Homo sapiens: one gene and its partners. The protein of the gene in region 3 interacts with the protein of the main gene of each other region in a pairwise test. Each region holds a gene or a part of one and is shown on either strand. Other genes may lie near its edges.

Evidence for each region. The genes of interacting proteins can lie anywhere in the genome.
Region 1: the proteins of PGBD1 (region 3) and NR4A1 interact in binary tests that used the Homo sapiens proteins (3 or more experiments, as listed by UniProt).
Region 2: the proteins of PGBD1 (region 3) and ZSCAN18 interact in binary tests that used the Homo sapiens proteins (3 or more experiments, as listed by UniProt).

What each region holds. Positions count from the first base shown.
Region 1 is NC_000012.12:52,053,937-52,060,587, reverse strand, and holds the end of NR4A1 (nuclear receptor subfamily 4immunitygroup A member 1), read right to left. Parts: intron 6,262-6,651; coding exon of another isoform or gene 6,260-6,261; coding exon 5,384-6,259; intron 4,559-5,383; coding exon 4,429-4,558; intron 4,095-4,428; coding exon 3,943-4,094; intron 3,532-3,942; coding exon 3,329-3,531; intron 3,237-3,328; coding exon 3,058-3,236; intron 1,901-3,057; coding exon 1,644-1,900; 3' UTR 1,085-1,643; downstream 1-1,084. UniProt on the Homo sapiens protein: Orphan nuclear receptor. Binds the NGFI-B response element (NBRE) 5'-AAAGGTCA-3'. Binds 9-cis-retinoic acid outside of its ligand-binding (NR LBD) domain.
Region 2 is NC_000019.10:58,094,648-58,102,921, forward strand, and holds the start of ZSCAN18 (zinc finger and SCAN domain-containing protein 18), read right to left. Parts: upstream 3,585-8,274; 5' UTR 3,527-3,584; exon of another isoform or gene 3,283-3,526; intron 1-3,282. UniProt on the Homo sapiens protein: May be involved in transcriptional regulation.
Region 3 is NC_000006.12:28,297,975-28,303,541, reverse strand, and holds the end of PGBD1 (piggyBac transposable element-derived protein 1), read right to left. Parts: coding exon 5,551-5,567; intron 2,819-5,550; coding exon 1,258-2,818; 3' UTR 993-1,257; downstream 1-992.

The DNA.
Region 1 (6,651 bases), on a different chromosome or scaffold from region 3:
CCACAGCTGAGAGCCCTATTCTGTCGGGCCCCATCCAGTAGGAGCTGCCCCTCAGCCAGCCACTTCCCAGGAGCCATGGAGGTGGAGACTTGGGGGGTCCTGGGCCAAGGGCTGTGAGGAACACGTGTGAGGGCACTGCCTTCAGGCCTCCTGCTGGGTCCTAGAGAAGCAAACAGTGAGGCTGGGTGAGCACCGAGCACAGGAAGGTGCCAGACCCTGCATGATGACCAACTCCCATGGGCCTCAGGTTAGGTCCATCCACATGTTTCTCAGAAGGGTGGCCCCAGGCCACCTGCATCACAAGCACCTGGGTACTTGCTAGAACTGAAGGTTTGGGGCCCCCTCACCTCCCCAGATCTGAGTCTCTGGGGGTAGATCCCAGGAATCTGCATTTTAAGCCAGCTGACTAAACAACTGACGAGCCTAGGGGGTTGGAGGGCCTACGTGGGGACACGGGCACAGGTAGGGACTTCAGTACAATCTTCTTGCCGAGAAGGTGAGGGCCGCCAGATCCCTGGATCTTCTTGCTGGGGTGGCAGGAGAGTGGGGAGGAATGTTGAGAATGGGGATGTTAAAACCCTGAATGTAACAGCTACTACCAATTTGGGCTTACTTAAACCCAGCCCATGCTAAGCATTACACACACACTCCTCTGACCGTAAAAGCTCTGTGAGGCTGGGTCTATTCTTGTTTTATGGATGTGGAAATCAAGAATCAGAGAATATATGTCCAGTTTAGGAAACATGACAACCCTGAGATCTGCGGCTAAGTCTATTGCTAGGGCCCTGCAGTGACCCCTGGGCTAGTCAGCCACTGCAGACCCCAGCAATGAGCCAGGCACAGCTAGCCAGGCACAGCTAATGCAGGCTTCCCACGTGTTAGAAATTAGTCTAAGTGCTTTGCATAACAACCTCGTGAAGCAGGTGTCATTATTATCCGCCTTTTACAAATGAGTACACTGAGGCCTGACAGCTCAGGCTGGTAACATCCAAGTTTCATCTTGAGCAGCCCATCTCTTATGTAATGATGGGGTGTGTCTGGTGGGGGAGTGGGGAGGGGGCATCAGAGACAGACTGAATCTCAGTTCCAACTACATGTCTATTTTTTATTCAATATATTAAATATATTAATCAGAAAAGTCACATACTATAAATCCAGGAAAATACACAAATATAAATGTCAGAATCTGTCATTTGTCTTCTTCCTAGAGTGACAGTTTATGTACATGTGGAAGGAGGGTAGGAAGAGAGAGCCAGCAGGAGGCTGGAAAGGCTGCCCAGGAAGGCGGGGCCCATCCCTTCCTCCCAGCCCCGCTCCCACCTCAAGCTCTTTCTTCCTGTATTTACAGCAGCACTGGGCTTATTTACAGCACGGCGCTATGTGTTAAAAACGGTTTATCTTACAAAAAACATAAAGGCCGGGGCCAGGCTGGGGGGGATAAGACAAATCGTGGGGTCACCCCCATGAAGGCATCCCCCTCCCCAAGGGCTTGAGCTCCCTGCAAACCTCCTGGAGCAGGTGAGAAGGTGGAGTCATTCTGCAGCTCAAGCCCAGGCTTGGGGGTGCTCTGGGGGTCCGTGGACTAAAGGCACATGGGGTGGCATATGAGAGTGCGCATGTGCACACGTGTTCCCAGGCAGGGGTCAGAAGGGCAGCGTGTCCATGAAGATCTTGTCAATGATGGGTGGAGGGGGCACCAAGTCCTCCAGCTTGAGGTAGAAGATGCGCTGCAGGCCCTGGGTGCACAGGGTCCGCAGCTCGGGCAGTTTGCCCAACAGACGTGACAGGCAGCTGGCTGGCTGGGGCTCGCCCGCCACAGCTGCCACGTGCTCCTTCAGGCAGCTGGCGATGCGGTTCTGCAGCTCCTCCACCCGCCGCGGCTCCTGCAGCCCATGCCGGTCTGCGGGAAGGGTACAGGATTAGCTGTACATCTGAGAACCAGGCCCCCAAAGCCCCAGCCTCCCCCAGGCCCCTAAAACTGCTGCCCCTGACCACCCCTCATGCTCTGCTGGCACTTCACAAAAGCGCATTCACATGTTGGCCATTAGTAAGCATCGTCACAAGTCTGAGAAGCAGTAACCCTCATTATCCTCATACTCCAAGTGAGAACCCGAGGCCCAGGAGGCTAATGACTTGCCCAGGGTCACAAACGGGAAATAAAATCCTAACCTACGTTTTCTGGCTAGATCATTGGGTTTTTAAAATCTAGACTGTTCTGAGAAACCCAGCCTCAGAACTCAGCACTCCCTCAGCCCAGAGTACCTCTGATTGTGTTCTATATCGTTGGGTCCCCTGTGCAATTTAAGTGAAAAAATGAACGAGGGTGGATTCTTTCCTTTAAAAAACAGAGAAATCTGAAAACCTCTGCATTCAACACCAGATTCCATCCTGCAGAACTACATTTACATAAAGTCCAAAACAGGCACAACCAATCTGATCTGCACTGTCAGAAGTCACAGTGAAGGGCTAGGCGTGGTGGCTCACACCTGTAATCCCAGCACTTTAGGAGGCTGAGACAGGAGGATCATTTGAGCCCAGGAGTTCGAGACCAGCTCGGGCAACATAGTGAGATTCCCATCTTATTTTTAAAATATTTAAATAAAAAGTAGTGGTTACCCTTGGGGAGGGCAAATGACTGGAAGGGGGCACAATAATGGGTTCTGGGGGGCAGTTATGTGCTCTTTCTTGACCAAGGCGCTGGTTGGGTAAGTGCGGTTTATGAAAATTTACCATTTGTGTACTTTTCTATATGCAGCATAATTGACAGGAAGGTTTTAAAAACAAGCCAATACCCTAGGCCACATACATGACACCTGCAGTCTGGATCCTGACAGTCTGGGACCAAAGGCTGTCTTGCGCTTTAGAGCTGGATGCAGCTGAGCCCATCTGCAATTCCTATGGTCCCTACTTTACTGCTGGCATGAGCCCGGGGCAGTGCAGGGGCCCAGAAAGTGCTAGATCCCGGCCCACCAAACTCCCTGGGACAGTGCCCTCCTGAGAACCAGTCAACCCCCTGACGCCCATTCCCTTGGACCTGGTGTGGTGCTGGTCACTCACCGGTGATGAGGACAAGGGCAGAGAGGCAGGCGAAGGCAGGGACATCGACAAGCAAGCTGTGCAGGGACCTTGAGAAGGCCAGGATACTGTCAATCCAGTCCCCGAAGCCACGGGCACACTGCAGCCGGTGTAGCACCAGGCCTGAGCAGAAGATGAGCTTGCCCTCGCCTGGCTTAGACCTGGCAGGCAGATGGGCACGAAGAGCGATCAGGGTGGTTCACAGGCAGGTGTATCAGGGAAAGGGGCTGGGCAGACAGTCAGTGGCTCTCACCTGTACGCCAGGCGGAGGATGAAGAGCTCCAGGAAGGCCGACTCCAGCAACAGGTCCTGGTCAGCCGGTGACAGCTCAGCAAAGCCAGGGATCTTCTCCGCCCACTTGCGGATGACCTCCAGAGAACCGGAGAGCAGGTCGTAGAACTGCTGTACATCCCCAGCATCTTCCTTCCCAAAGTGGGGCAGCACCAGCTCCTGGAACTAGGAAGACGGTCCAGTGGGGTCAGCACCCCAGGCAGGCTCCTACACCCACTGCCACGTATGGCTGTGTCAGACACTTGGATGCCAGATCCCGGGAGTGGGAGTGGATCTGAGATCCTGCCCAGGCTCTCACTTGCCAAGTCTCACATATTAACCCAGGGCTGCAGCTGCCAAAAGGACATATTTTTCTAATTGGCCACCTGCCTGAGGGGGTGCATTTTCCCATCTGGTCAGCCGAGAGGGGGATCCTCTCTTTGATCTGTCGAACTGGAGGGAGTCGCTTTTCTTTCTTTCTTTTTTAAACCTCCTTTCTCATTCAGTCCTTCCAGAGGGGGTAGCTCTCCTAACACGCACAAAGGCACTGCATGTGCTCATAGACCTCCCCAAGGCAGACACGGGGTGGGACCTCACCTTGGAGTAGTCCAGTTTGGCAGTGCTGGGCCCTGAGTCCAGGTGTGCACGGACCAGGGAAGTGAGGAGATTGGCAGGGGAGGCATCTGGGGGCTGCTTGGGTTTTGAAGGTAGCCGGCCCCGCCGCCCCTTCAGGCTGTCTGTTCGGACAACTGCAAAGGAATGGGTAGGGGTGAGGAAGGAAGGGATCTGAGGAAGGGCCTCTCAGCCCAAGCCGTGCACACCACTGCTGAGACGCGCCCCACCGAGTCCCTAGGACCCAGAGTCCCTGAGATCCAAGGTACCCTATAGGAACCTCCCCCTGCCACCACCCTCACAATCCAGGCAGGTGTAGGCTGCCTCCCTCCAAGGCCTGGGGTTCAGAGGTGGGGTGGAAATAAGACGTGCCCTCCTCTGGGTCCTCCAGGGCAGAAGCCTGGGGGCCCTGCTGGTCCCACTCCACTCAAGCCTACCCTTGCCCCGCTGGGCCGCACCCCAGCCACACACCTTCCTTCACCATGCCCACCGCCAGGCACTTCTGGAAGCGGCAGAACTGGCAGCGGTTTCGCCGCCTCTTGTCCACAGGGCAGTCCTTGTTAGCCAGGCAGATGTACTTGGCGTTTTTCTGCACTGTGCGCTGGGTGGGGGGGCAACACGGAACAAGCTGTCAGAGTGTGGGGTGGGGAGGGGGGAACTTAGGGGAGGGGACCGTCCAGATCCTGCTGCCATTGCAGACAAAAGCGCTCTCTGTTCACAGCTATTTTTCTAACATTTGGGTGGCAAGGGAGGGAGAGACGGGGTTGGGCGGGGGGAGAGAAAAGTCTTGAAGACATTGGGGGAGGTTTCTCGCTCTGAGGAAGTCCCCAGGACACACTACTGGGGGCCAGGGTCTCCCTGGCAGTCTAGACACCTGTATTTTTTCATGGGCCCTTGTCCACCTGCCTTCTCCCTAGGGCAGACAGGAGAGGGCCAAGGGGCTGGGGGGTGGGGACGGGAAGCTAAGCAGGCACCATCGCTGGGACAAACACACAGCCTGTTCCCAAGTCCACCCCCAGCCCTCAAGAACCAAACCCTCCGCAGGGATCCTTTCATCTCACGCCAGGAACATGAGAGCCTGGGGGCACCCCTTCCCACTAGAACCTTGAGTTGGGAGAGGACAGGCAGAGGAGCAGAGGAAAACCAGAGGCTCGCCAGGCACCCCTGCAGCTCCTATCTGCCCCTATCTCACCCCTCCCTCCAGCTCTGTGCAATCCCATGGGCCCGAGTGTCCCGGCAAATGAAAGCTTCCAGCCCTGGCATCTACGGGTCTCCAGGAAGGCGGCCCACCTGGCAGGGCTGATCCCACCCTGCAGGACAGGACTTAGCTAGGAGGAGAACCCAGGGGGAGACCACAGGTCCCAATGGGATGAGGCCAGCCTCTCTCCATTTCCAACAAAAGGCCCCACCTGGGGCTGCGCGGTACCTTGAAGAAGCCCTTGCAGCCCTCACATGTGCGGACACCATAATGCTGGCATGAAGCGTTGTCCCCACACACAGCACAGCGGCCTTCACTTCCACCTGGGGCCCCGCTCCGGGCCTTGGTTGAGGTCACGGGTGTATCCAGTATCCCCGAGCCCTCAAGGTGTGGAGAAGTGGGTGCCAAACCTGGGAAGGCCGTAGGCATGGAATAGCTCTCTCCCTCCCCCAGCTGGTGGGTGGCCTGTGAGGGGAACAACTTCAGGGGGCTCTGGGCCAGGCTGGGGCTGGGGCCGGTGGGAGGACTGAAGGAAAAGAAGGCTGGAGGCTGTGGGGGCCCAGAGGCTTTGGGCAGCTGCTCTGTCCATGCCCGCAGGCCTTCGTAAGTCTGGCTGGGCGAGAAGTGGCCGAAGGAGCCATCCCAGGGAGAGAGCTGGGGCGGCTGGAAGCTGGGCGTGGAGGGCGACGGGGCCGAGCAGGGGCTGCCATAGTAGTCAGAGCCACTGGAGGACAGGGCCTCATCCACTGGGCCGCTCAGGGGGCCGGGGTAGCAGCCGTACACCTGGAAGTCCTCGAACTTGAAGGAGGCAGAGGCAGGGGAGGTGGCTGAGGACGAGGATGTGGAGGAGGCCGAGGAGGAGGCTGAGGAGCATGGCTGGACTGTTCCTGGCAGCTGGTAGAGGAAGGTGTCAAACTCTCCTGTGTAGCCGTCCATGAAGGTGCTGAAGCTGGGCAGGGCAGTGGGGGCAGCGGGGGCTGCCTCGGGGCTGGCCAGGTCCATGGTGGGCTTGATGAACTCAGGGGTCAGGGGGTCGCTTGCCAGGTGGTCACGGGGTCCCGGACTCGGTGCTGGTGTCCCATATTGGGCTTGGATACAGGGCATCTCTGGAGAGAGAGGAGACCCCAGGGAGGGAAAGGAGAGTCAGTGGGACAAGCCTATAGCCTTGTCTCAAAGTATTTGGGCCCCAGAGCAGCAAGGTGGCAGGAATCCCAGCCTAAAGATGAGACAGAGGCACCGGGACCAGAGCACCCAGGAATCCTGACCCCTGGCCTGAGTACCATCTCGACCTAGGTGCCACAAAGCCCCTGGGCAGCGGCCCAGCATGAGTGGGCTCCATCAGAAGGCCAGCCACACCCTAGTCAGCCTGGGAACCCTAGGGGAGGCATACAGCCAGCATTTCTCTGCTAGAACAGGGGGAAGCTGTGTTCCTCCAGCCCCCTGCCCCTCCCCCATGGGGAAGGCATGGTGGGGGCCGGGAGAAGGGTGAGTGGGAG
Region 2 (8,274 bases), on a different chromosome or scaffold from region 3:
TAGGTGGACAGCTTGAGCCCAGGAGCTCAAGAACAGCCTGGGCAACATACCAAAACTTCATCTCTACAAAAAATAGAAAAATTAGCTAGGCACAGTGGTGCATGCCTGTGGTCCCAGCTACTCTGGAGACTGAGGTTGGAGGATCACCTGAACCCAGGAGGTCAAGGCTTCAGTGAGCTGTGATCACAACACCACATTGCAGCCTGGGTAACAGAGTGAGACCCTGTCGCAAAAAAAAAAAAAAAAAAAAAAAAAAAAAATTAGCCAGGCGTGGTGGCACACACCTGTGGTCCCAGCTACATGGGAGGCTAATGTGGGAGGACCCCTTAATCCCAGGAGTTGGAGGCTGCAGTGAGCTATGTTTGTGCCACTGTACTCCAGCATAAGCGACACAGCAAGATCCTGTCTCTAATGAATACAAACAAAACAGGTCACTGCTGGCCTGCAGGTGGGTACGCTAACCCCTGTTCTGGAGCCTCTCCTGATGGGAGGCGTGACGCCAGCTCTACCCCCTGGCAATGGAGGCACAGAGCTCTACTTGGTGCATGGACAGAGGTGTGGTCCTGCAGGCATGTAATTTTGGCTTTCTTAGGACGCCAGAGGCTTGTTCACCTTGCAGAGAACCTGTCTCCACAAAACAAACTGTGAGCTCCATAATGTGTGTGCACAGAACCTTCCCTCATCAGAACCTCACAATCCCAGAGGGGTAGGAACCACATGCAGCCCCAAGGTGCAAGTGGGAAATAGAGGCACGAGGCAGGCAATCACTAAGGCTGGGACCCCACCTGCAAAGTGACGCTGCCACTCATCCTTCCCCGTCCAGGCCCATAAGCCTGCCCTTTAAGAGGCCTCCTGCCGGCCCTCCCCTCTAGCCCTCATGGCCTCCACAGTGGGCAGATCCCAGCCAGCTCCCCCAGCCCCTCTCCTCCTGCTCCAACTTCCCAGCTCTGAGCATGGTGGAGGCATCGGGGTCTAGGTAGAATGAGCAAGGGTCCTCGGCCATTGGCAGGGGCGGGATGACGTGGGGAGGACGGGACACCCTCCGGCTGGGTCACTGGCCAAGACAGTGGGGGACACATGTCAGCCCCTGGGGACAGGAACGGGAGCTCCTCGCCTCTGTGCCCTTCCCCCTCAGCATTACAAGTTGTGAGCCTCTCTGGGAAGCCACCTCTGCCTCCACTTCCTCCATTCACCTGCAAAGCAGAAGCTTCCATGGAACCAGGGGTCTCCTAAAACGCCCAACTCCAAGGAAGCTGCTGCCTCCTGTGAAAACAGCCTCTCCCTGTTCATCTCCCTTCCTACTGGGACCCTGATGCTCACAGCCAGGAGGATGAGGCCATCTCAAGAGCCTCCAGAAATCTCTGGCCCTGTGTCTTCTTGCCTCCTTCAGCCCCATTCCTGGCCACACTGTCAAGAGGACTCTCAGAGATCTCACCGGGGCAGGTGCGGCAGCGTACATCTATAATCTCAGAGCCTGGGGAGTCTTAAGCAGGAGGACTGCTTGAGCCCAGGAGTTGGAGGCTGTGATTGGCCACTGCACTCCAGCCTGGGCGACAGAATGAGCCCGTGTCTCACAAACAAACAAAATAGAGATACCACTGGGACCCTTTCCTGCCACAGCCTGCTTGAATGAGGCCACACCTCGTTGGAGTCTGGCTTGGTCACTGGGCAAACCTCCCTCCCCTAATCTTGGGACTGTCCAGGATTTGCCTCAGATGGGATTTTCCTGGAGCCCAGCCCCCCAGCCTCAGCAAATGAAGCAATCTGCACAAGTCTTGAGCCAGTCCTGTAGGCTTTGCTGCACCCAGAGGCCTGGAATACAGAAGCTGAGGCAGAGAGCTCCACGGTGGGTGAGGGGTGGCTGAGCTGAGGGGTCCCAAGCCTGGTGGGTCTCCAGAGTCCTGCAGCAAATCCCCTTCATCCTGGGCTGAGCAGAGCTCAAGCCTGGTTTGGCCCTCCGTGGGCCCAGCCCTGGCCACCTGAGGAATATTCATCGCAGCTCTCCATCCCACCACACTCATCGGCAGGGTCTAGCAAACCACCCCACAGCCACAGGCCTGAGGATCAGCCAGGGAAGCTCAATGCATGGGATGTGGTTGTTGATGGGTCGCCGGATATTCCCAGGGTCTGCCCTGGCTTCATCCACAGATCACTTACTCATTATAAAAAGGGGTAAAAGTGCTTTTAAAAGAATGAAAAAACATGGAGTAAGGGTCGTCGTTCACATCTCAGCTGCCTTTTGTGGTCCCTGATCCACTCGCCAGGACAGACAGAACCAGAGAGATGTCCTGCGCAACTGGCCTAGGCTCCCCGAAAACCCGAGGCCAGAAATACCCAGGAAGTCACAGATTCAAGCATCATGCACAGAAAACAGCAACTCGATGCGACACGTGGTCCCGCTCTGACTCCAGGGCAGGAAACCATCCGCAGGACATGATGGGATGGGGGAAGTGAAATGGAACCGAGGAGGTGACATGGAACCAAGTGACTGTGCCACTCAGCCTCGCCCAGGAGTCAGCAAGGACACAGGCGAATATATGGGAAAGTGGAAGGAGGGCAGACAGAAATGGGGGAAGCGGGGAGGGAAGGTAGCAGGGAGAGAGAAGACAGGAGAGGAAGGAGCAAGAGCAGGGAAAGCCAGATAGTCTGGACGGGGGTAGAGGGGGATTGGGAAAAGGAAGGAGCCCAGGAGGGTGAGAGAAAGGAAATGGGGAAGGAGTGATGGGAGGGTGAGTCAGGCCCCCACCCCAACCCCCTGGGTCAGGACCGAAGCCAGTACACCCACTCTTGCCTCTTCCACGAGAGAGGTCTCCGGGGTGGGCGCAGACACCTAACTCAAACAGAACCCACCCCCAGGTGACTGGGGAGAGGCGAGATATTCCAAGGGTGGGGGCAGCAGAGACAATGCCCATTCTAGGCACCCCTTTGGTCCCCGCACCCTCCATCCCTTCCCTGCTCCAGCCCCTGGGGCCACAGCCTGCCCAGCGTCCCCCCACCACGGACACCCTCACATCCTCACACCCTCAGCCCCCACTTCCTCCCCTCCTCTTCCCTTCAGGAGCCTCCCCCTCCCTTCTCTTCCCCACTCAGGAGCCTCCCCCTCCCCCTTTTCGCCCCCCTCAGGAGCCTTCCCCTCCCCCCTTTCTCCCCCATCAGGAGCCTCCCCCTCCCTCATCTCTCCCCCATCAGGAGCCGCCCCTTCCTGTTCTCCCACCCACAGGGTGCCCTAAGCGCCTCCCCTCCACGAGCCTACACGGGGTGGGGGTTGCACTAGTTCCCTACCTGCCTGCAGGGCCCCTCACCGATCTGGATCTCAGCCACCTCCGGGGGGACCCGGCCCCTGCCCCGCACTCCACGCGAAGGGATGCCAGACCCTCGGCCTCCTGGACGCACAGCGGGGGCTCGCACCCCAACCCCGGGAACACCCTGGCCCCTTTCCCTAACGCTGCCCACTGAGGCGTCCTCACCGTCTACCCTGTTGGGGTCGCTCTCTGACCCCCGCGCTGCATCCCCGGGACCGACCCACCTGCTGCGCAGCTACCCCAGGCCGGTCCCAGCCGCCCGGAGCCCCAGTGCGCGATGGCGGCCGGCAAACTGCGCCTGCGCACTGGGCCTCACCGCGGACTACGACTCCCACAATGCCGCGAGGCTGTGCCGCGCACCGGGGCGAGCAAGGGAGCCGTGACAGGTGACAGTGCGCATGGCCAATCAGACGCGAGTGTGGCCTCCCGGCGTCCCGCCCACTCCGGCGCCTGCGTCATTTTGGGCACCATGGCAACGAAGTAAACAAGCGGGTAAATAATAGACCCCTGACAGCCAGAGACCCGGAGAAACAAAGACGGTGAGAAACGGAGAAACAAAGACAAAAAGACGCGCAGACCGGGAGGGAGAGAAGCATGAAGGCCCACAGACGCTCGGGGGCAGACCAAGACGCCCTGGGGTCCCCGAAACAGAGATGTACAGAGTCGGACACGGAAAGGGAGAGACCAGCTCACGGTTAAGAAAGGAGGGAGACCAGCCCAGGATCAAGAAAGGGAAAGACCAGCATGGGCTCAAGAAAAGAAAGAGACCAGCTCAGGCTCAGGAAAAGAGAGAGACCCAGAGAAAAGGAGCACTCGAGGCTGAGACAGATCTGGACAGAGATACAGAGACAGGGACCAGCAGACCCAGTACTGGGGAGACAAGAGGTGGAGACCCAGAGACACTGATGCGCTAAAATGGGTTCTACAGTTTCAAGGAGTGGATAGAACTCAAAGATTACCCACCCCAGGGATTCAGGAGCTGCTGAAATGAGGGAAATGTGAGTGGCAGCTGGGGTGAGGGCTTTGGCAAAGCCCCATATAAATGTAGCCCCCCTGGAAGGCAGGATAGGGCCAGGAGCTGCTTCCCATTTCAGTTTTCCAGATAGAGGCGCTTATGAGGATGCCATTTTGGTCGTTTTTGTGTGAACTGATTTTTAAAATGTATATCTGAACAGTTTATATATTTTAAATTTACATACACCACACATTTTGGTATTCAGTTTTATGAATTTTAACTCATATCCACCAACAAACTCGGGACAAAGAATAGCTCCACTGCCCAAAAATCCTCCTGCTGCCTCTTGGTAGTCACTCCCTCCCCACCCATAACCCCAGGAACAGCTAATCTAAGTAGTCCACTGCTACAATTTTGCCTTCACAGTGTCATATAAGTGGGATCATACAGTATGTGGCCTCTTCAGATTGGCTTTTTCACTGAACATAATTCCTTTGAGAGGCATTGAAGTAGTATGTATCAACAGTTCATTCCATTTTATTGAGAAGTAGTATTCTATGGTATATAGCAGTTTAAACCTTCTCCCACTGAGAGATATTAGGATCGTTTTAAGTATTTTGCTATTAAAAATAAAGCTGCTATGAACATTCGTGTACAGATTTTTCTGTGAACGTAAGTTTTCACTTTTCTGGGATAAAAGCCCAAGAGTGCAGTTTCTAGGTCACACAATGAACACGTGCTTATTAGTGTTGTAAGAAGCTGCCACACTCTCATGCAGAGTAGCTGGACCATTTTACACTCCCACCACCAATGAATGTGTGAATCCACTTCACATTTTTATCAGCATTTGTGTTTTGCTATTTTTTATTTTGGCCATTCTGATAGGTATGTACTGATATATCATTGTGGTTTCAATTTGCATTTCCCTTAATTGCTAACAAGTTTGAGCACACTTTAATGATTTTTTTGGCATTTGTATACCCTCTTCATTAAAGTATCTGTTCGTATCTTTTGCCCATTTTCTAATTTTTAAAAAAATTGCTCAGTTTTGAAAGCTATGTTTTTTTTTTTTTTGAGACAAGGTCTCACTCTGTCACTGAGGCTAGAGTGCAGTGGTGCCATCATGAATCACTGCAGCCTTGACCTTCCAGGCTCAAGTGATCCTCACCTCAGCCTCCCGAGTAGCTGGAACTACAGGTGTGCGCTACCATACCCAGCTAATTTTTTTTTTTAAGAGATGGGGTCTCACTATAATGCTAAGGCTGGTCTCAGACCCCCGGGCTCAAGCAATCCTCCCACCATGGCCTCCCAAAGTGCTGGGATTACAGGCATGAGCCACCATGCCCAGTCTTTCCAGTTTATTTTAATGGATATAACTCAGGAACTGCCAAATGGAAGAGATGCACAGCTAAGGTCTGGTCAGGGGCACTGAAGGTGCAGTGCATCCATGTACCGTCTGGGTGAGCCATCCTCCCAGCACTCAGATGTGTTCACCAACCCAGCTCTCTCAATCGTGGGGCAGAGAGAGGGTCCATACCTTCTTTAAGGTGACTATCCCCATCCTGAAGATATCTATGGGTCCCACTGGAGTCACCTCATTAGCATAAACTCAGGTGTGGTCGAAACGGGCTCCTTATGAATTGCAAACCCTATTCCTATTATTCACAAAATTCCAAGGCTTTTAGCTCTGTGCCAGGAACCAGGGATAAAGATCAAATGTAAGGGCCAGGCGCGGTGGCTCATGCCTGTAATCCCAGCACTCTAGGAGGCCAGCGGGCGGATCACGAGGTCAACATGGTGAAACCCTGGCTCTACTAAAAATACAAAAATTAGCCAGGCATGGTGGCAGGTGCCTGTAATTGCAGCTGCTCGAGAGGCTGAGGCAGCTTGAAACTGGAAGGCAGGGGCTGCAGTGAGTTGAGATCGCACCACTGCACTCCAGCCTGGGCAAAAGAGCAAAACTCCATCTAAAAAAAAAAAGAAAAAAGATGAAATGTAGGTTTTATTACACCACAGATGGCCAATTGTTCTTGCACCATCTGGAAAAGGCTATCTTTCCTGCATTGAATAGCTTTTGCTCCTTAAAAAATCAGTCAGGAATATCTTTGCAGGTCTATTTCCGGGTTCTCGATTCCGTTCCACTGATCTATGTGTCTGCCAATACCACATTGGGTTACCACGGCTACAGAGTAACAACATCAGGTGCAGTTATTCCTCCCACTTTTTTTTTTTTTTTTTTTTTTTTTGAGACAGAGTCTTGCTCAGTTGCCCAGGCTGGAGCGCAGTGGCGCGATCTCGGCTCACCGCAAGCTCCACCTCCCGGGTTCACGCCATTCTCCTGCCTCAGCCTCCCGAATAGCTGGGACTACAGGCGCCCGCCACCATGCCCAGCTAATTTTTTTTTTTTTTTTTTTTTTTGTATTTTTAGTAGAGACAGGGTTTCACCATGTTAGCCAGGATGGTCTCGATCTCCTGACCTCATGATCCACCCGCCTTGGCCTCCCAAAGTGCTGGGATTACAGGCATGAGCCACTGCGCCCGGCCACTTTTTTTCTTTTTCAAAGTTATTTTAACTATTCCAAGTCTTGTGCTTTCCCATATACTTTATCTTCTTCTTTTTTTTTTTTTTTTTTGAGACAGAGTCTTGCTCTGTCACCCAGGTTGGAGTGCAGTGATGCAATTTCAGCTCACTGTAAACTCTGCCTCCTGGGTTCAAGTGGTTCTTCTGCCTCAGCCTCCTGAGTAGCTGGGATTACAGGTATGTGCTACCATGCCTGGCTAATTTTTGTATTTTTAGTAGAGACGGGGTTTCACCATGTTGACCAGGCTGGTCTCAAACTCTTGACCTCAGGTGATTCGCCCACCTTGGCCTCCCAAAGTGCTAGGATTACAGGTGTGAGCCACCGCACCCAGCCTTTTTTTTTTCTTTGTTTTTTGAGACAGAATCTCACTCCTAACCATGCTGCTAATATTTACATGGTCCTGCACCAGTGTGTTCATGTAATTTCACATAACTTTTTTCTTTAATTAGGGTTGAGTTTCCTATATAGGCCTTCTAAGCAGCCAGAGATCACACACTTAAATGAGCACCTATTAGCTTCCAGGCATATTATGTTTTCTTTTATAAATAAAAGCCTCAAAATGCACACATGCATACACACACACACGATTACTGACCAAAAGGTATTTCAGTATAAAAGCTAGAGTAGAAGCTCCATAAGGACGGTGACTTTTCCCTGTTTAGGCAGCTTACTAAAAAACCCCATATACTCAGCCGGGCGCAGTGGTTCACGCCTGTAATCCCAGCAATTTGGGAGGCCGAGGTGGGCTGCTCACGAGGTCAGGAGATTGAGACCATCCTGGCTAACACGGTGAAACCCTGTCTCTACCAAGAAAATACAAAAAAATTAGCCGGGCATGGTGGCGGGCGCCTGTAGTCCCAGCTACTAGGGAGGCTGAGGCAGGAGAATGGTGTGAACCCGGGAGGCAGAGCTTGCAGAGAGCCAAGATCACGCAACTGCACTCCAGCCTGGGCGACAGAGCAAGACTCCATCTCAAAACAAACAAACAAACAAACAAACAAACAAACCATATACTCTTCTGTGCTGTTTGGCTTCCCCCCACATTATGAACTTTAAAAATCTTGCAATAAAATAACAATTATGGCTGACACAGGCTATAAGAAAGAAGGCAGGTAACAATGATTATTCAGCAAGGTAGGAAGGACTACAATGGCACACAGACTTGCCATTTTGTACTGCATCGGATATGTCAATGTTAATTGTCATCTCAGCAACAAGATTTTTTCCTTGAGAGTTGTATTTCTCCTCAAATGGACTCTCACTAGTCATTCAATTCCTCCTTCTGATATTACTCTTATTTCATTGATTCCAAGATAACAGATGGTAACATGTACATTTTATGTGCTAATAAAAGGCTGCCTGAGGCCTAGCACAGTGCCTCACACCTGTAATCTCAGCACTTTGGGAGGCCGAGGTGGGTGGACCACCTGAGGTC
Region 3 (5,567 bases):
CAGCCAGGAAAGGGACTGTAAATATTAGGATATGAAAGAAAGGCAAAGAGCTGTTGTGGCTACAACTCACAGAAATGAGGTGGAGCCTGTCTTCTCTACCCTCCAGACTAATCCACCAATGCTAGACTTCAACACTAAGGAGTCACAGTCCGTATCATTCACTTTTCCAAGTGTTTCTCCTTCAGTTACCTATCACTGATGGCCTTAAGCCTAGACATCTCCTCAGGTGATTTCAACTTGGCCTTTATGTTGACTTTATGCCTATCTTTTCCTTCACTCTCCTGGTTACTTGTTACCCTGATTTGCCTGTTTCCTTGGTTTTCTTTACTCTTCTGACTTCTGCTGCCAACTCACACAGTCACCATAGGATACACCTATCATTTCAATATTCAAAGGCACTGCTTCACCTCTGGTTTTTCCTTTATAGCACTCTCCTTCAATATCCATGCCTGACCCTTCTCACTTACACACAATCCGATCCAGTTTTACACCAATGCTAAGGTTTTTAGTCTCTTACCACCTATGTTTTGTTTAGATCATTCTTACTTCATAGGCTGTGTCACTAGTTTGAACTATTGAGTCAGCACCATTCTATGGTTTCTGTAACATTGCTTGCATCTTAAAAATGGCATTCTCCAGATAATTTTTTTTAAGAGGTAGGATTTCCTTCTTTAAATGCACAAAATAGCTGGGCATGGTGGCTCACGCCTGTAATCCCAGCACTTTGGGAGGCCAAGGCAGGCAGATCACGAGGTCAGATCGAGACCATCCTGGCCAACATGGTGAAACCCTGTCTCTACTAAAAATACAAAAATTAGCTAGGCATGGCAGCACGTGCCTGTAATCCCAGCTACTTGGGAGGCTGAGGCAGGAGAATCGCTTGAACTAGGGTGTCAGAGGTTGCAGTGAGCCAAGATCGTGCCACTGCACTCCAGCTTGGCCGCAGAGCGAGACTGTGTCTCAAAAAATAAATAAATAAGTGCACAAAGTAGTCAATTGAACAAATACATGATTTCCCATGTCTGACACAAAACTTGACATAGAGAAAGGTACTACAGTTCAACATTCTCACAGACAATTTTTAACATTACTTGTTACAATAGTCTTTGAAACTCTATATAAATGTCTGATTTTTAAAAGTATTATTTAATAACTTCATTACATATATCAGATTTACTTTGGGAGGGTACAACAGCATGTATAATTATTATTTTTCTATGTCTTATTAATGTCTGCACTATGTCCATTTTATGTACCCTAATCTGACAGATGAGCATTGTGTTCCAAGTAGAAATGTGCAACAAATCTCCGAAAATCCAAGGGGTCTAGAGAAGCACCTGGGTTACAGGCTCTGTGTAGTTGCCATGCATTGTTCATGGCTACATCAATCATGTAGCTCACCAAAATTGAGTACCATTTCTTGCTTCTTATCCTCACCCTGTATTTCGAAATAATTTGATCCATTTTAGCTACACCTTCCTTGCATTCATCATACACTTTTACTATGGATGGTTGACTTATCTGAGGGATTTCTTCGTTATCAGCATCACAACAGCTTACCTCATTGACTGGTTCTATGCCCACAGCATTGGAGCACAGACTGATAATGCCATCCCCATACCAACGACACAAAATTATCTCATTGTTTTCTTCTATTCGGAAATCAAAATACCCTCTCTTCATTTTTTTCATATGTTCTACATTCATAAGGGGACATTTTTCGGTCCTGTTCTCACGAATTGTTCCTGTTGCCCTCACCCCCTTCTTTTTCAAGGCTGACAACAATTTGACACTTGTAAAGAAGCTATCAAAACACAGGTGATAGGGATACTGACCTCTCTCTAAAAGAACATCAGCGAAGTTCATCACTAGATTTCCACCTAACCCAAGATCAGGATCCTCATCTACCTTCATAGTTGATTCTTCTTGATAGGGTTCAAACCAAACCAGATAACCCTGTGTGGTTGTACCACACCAAATTTTATAGCCAATTCTAATAGGCTTTCCATTCAGGAATTGGTCACTATCAAAGCATTCACACATTGACTTATCAAAGCAATAGTATTCTTCCAGGGGAGCATACAAGAGGAAATTTTTATTCATTTGTTTTATGAGAGGTCTCAACTTTGTAAACTTATCTTTTTGATCTAGGTGGCCATTATCTGCAAAGTGCAGGTTTGAGAAAATCAATTCAAATCTGTCCCTTCTGATTGCATCTCTAACCAGGTTCTGATCGGTGTCAGAGACTTCCCAATACATTTCCCTTCTAGGATGCCTCATAAATCCACTCAAAAGTAAGACACCAAACACACACCTCATTTCCTGAACTGTGACTTCCAAGCTGACATTTTTCTGAGAAGCATAATTATTGGTTTCATTGACAATTAAGTTGAATGTTTCATCATCAAAAAATAATTCAAAAAGCTCTACTGGGTTCAACTTTTCGCTCTTGAGATTCAAAAGTCCAGAATCCAGTGCTGACCAGCTTGGAAAATTGGGTTTAATGTCTCTTTTGGTCCAACTCTTTTCTGGGAAACATGATACCTTTAACTTCTTTTGAGCAGGCTGGATCTCAGGCTCATTATCTTTTTCCACATCTGAGTCACCAGAGAATGAGAGGCCTTGGAGCAGTTCACTCACTCGAGCTTTGTCTTTTTTTCTCCCTTTTCGGGTAATGTCTCCTGCAGCATATTCCAGGGATGAGATGTGCATGCGGGCCCACAAATCACCTGGGTGACGGTCCTTCAGAGTGTTCAAATGTGCAACTGTCCTTTCAGTAGCAATAGGAGTACTACAAGGAATCTGGGGTGCACACTCTCTGGGAAAGAAAAAAAGAACATGTTATAAAAATCCTCAATCATATTCTCTCACACATGATAAATCTGCTGAAGCTTAAATCTTTTGGGGCTTGGGGTGGGTGTGGGGGGATACTTACTTATTTCTCTTAAGTTTCCATGGGGAGGACTTTGGCTAGATTAAACATTTCTAGCCACTCTCCACCTCTCACTCACTCCTCAGGATGGAACTAACTGTTGAGCCTGGGAGAAATAACTGAGTATCCTTGGTACACTCCTCCCTCTGTCCTCTTTAGGAGCAGGATGCAGACATCCCATGCTCCTTGGTGCCCCAAGTTGCATTGAGAAGACCTATGCAGAGGGACATCTGCTACACTCCTCCTCTGCCAGTACAAGCCTATTTAGCTCTGCCTTTAAGCCGTTTTTATCCAGTCTAACTTCTGTCAGTAAGAAACTGAGGTTTCCAGAACCATCTATTTTACTCCTGCATCCCTGTCAATTGGTTCTGAATCTGAACAAGAAAAAAAGGTTATTATTTACCAGGTCTTCTGACATCTCTCACAGAATTTCTGAACATGGAAGGACTTAGCCCCTGCTAGTTCTACATTCATCTGATGGACATACTACTCTGGGGAAAAACAAATGAAACTCAACTCATTGCACTTGGACTGATTTTTATGGGGTTTACAAGGAAGTAAGCTAAAGTTACAAAGATGAAAAGTTTTGTTTTGTTTTTTTTTTTTTTTGAGACAGAGTCTAGCTCTGTCACCCAGGCTGGAGTGCAGTGGCATGATTTCAGCTCACTGCCACCTCTGCCTCCCAGGTTCAAGCAATTCTCCTGCCTCAGCCTCCCGAGTAGCTGGGACTACAGGCACGTGCCACCATGCCCAACTAATTTTTGTATTTTTAGTAGAGACAGGGTTTCACTGTGTTGGCCAGGCTGGTCTCAAACTCCTGACCTCGTGATCCACTCACCTCGGCCTCCCAAAGTGCTGGGATTACAAGCATGAGCCACTGCACCCAACTGAAAAGTATTATTTTACACAAAGTTTTTAATTTTTAGACATGTGCATTTAATTTATTAGTGTTCTGTTGGTAAACTAGTCAAGTTTTCAAAGACATTTAAGAAGCATGAAGAGTATATTTTAATATAATTTACACTACATACATTTCTTTATGTAAAGTGTTTATCATCCAGGGTGTCTTCAGTGTCTGCATGTATTCAACACATCCATCTTAAAGTTCCCTGACATCCATAACTTCAGTGACATTCCTTGATCACACTGAGTCTTTCTACTGTTGACATCTAAACTCTAAGAACCACAGTGCATTAAGCCCAATATTGTGAGGGAAGGAAATGGGAGTGAGAAATGGGAAAAAAGAGTGAGCTAAGAAAGTGGGGTGGGGGTGAGGGAGGGGGACTAGAAGGAGGGCAGGGGGCTAGACCTTTGATACCATGGTTAAGCTATTGCACCTAACCTGAAATAGCCTACCTTCACACTTTTTGTTATATGAATATCTTTATTATAGGCACTATGAATTACCTGTTAGTTGCCTGATACTAAATGTACCTACAGGCACAATAGCAGATTCCTATTCTCCAGTTGCATAACTCTGCTCTAAGTTACTGAACATCATATCTCTTCCTTTAGTGGAGCCTGGCTCAGTCTTCACTAATCTTAATGCAAAATTTCACTTCTCCTCTTGAGCTTTAAGACATTTCTACTTTAGCTGAGATTTAGCTCCCAGTTTCTCTAAGTTAAACAAATGTCAATAAGGAAAATTCACACCCCCTTCTCAGCTCTTTGGCCAAGTAGCCCACCTTGCTTACTCTCTCTTTTCTCAAGTCTCTGAGGACCAAATGGCCTCACCAGAAGCCAACCCTCTGCTTGTGATTTGTTCCCTCTCTTTCTGCAATCCTGAGAAGCCTCGGAATGTTGGGCATTCCCGAGGCTTCTCCACCTTGTTCCATTTCTTCAGAAGTTTCTTGCTTTGCATAGGAGTATCTGTTACAAGTTCATTCATTCCCACAACCAGCACTTATGAAGCACACACCACTGTCATTCATTTCTACTTCATCAGCTAACTTTCCTTTTGACCTATACCTTGTTCAGGTCTCCCAATGGCGGTTGAAAATACAGGTTAATTTTCCCTTATCTGAAATGCTTGGGGTCAGAAGATTTTTGAATTTTGGATTTTTTTCAGATTTTGGAATATTTGCATTATACCAGTTGGGCATCCCTAACCAAAGATCCAAAATCCAAAATGCTCCAATGAGCATTTCCTTTGAGCATCATGCTGGTGCTCAAACAGCTCAGATTTTGGAACATTTCAGATTTGGAATGCTCAACCTGTACCCTGCTTGTCCTCTTCCACTCTGACATTTCTTTCTTAACTGTCATGGCAGCTTCATCTGTAGCCCTCATTCTTGTTAAATTATCTGCCTTCTAGCTTCTCCACAGCTCCATAAAAATGTAAGGGAGCCCAGGGAAGGGTAATCAAGCAGGACAGACTGGATCAGGATAGGCTTCTTGGAGGAAACTGAGTATCAACTGAAGGTTTTGTATATTTATTGCATATTGAAAATTTTGAATAGGTCACTTTCTTGGCATGGACCTCCTATGATCACAGAAGTGAGTGGCAGTTGTCATATCTTATTCCAGAGAAGCAGGCCTTTGACCAATTGGTTTCTCTGATTCCATTCCAATTTCTTATATCTGCAGGATTTGATTCACTGAGGACCATGGACACTCACCTGTTGGGCTTTCCTGA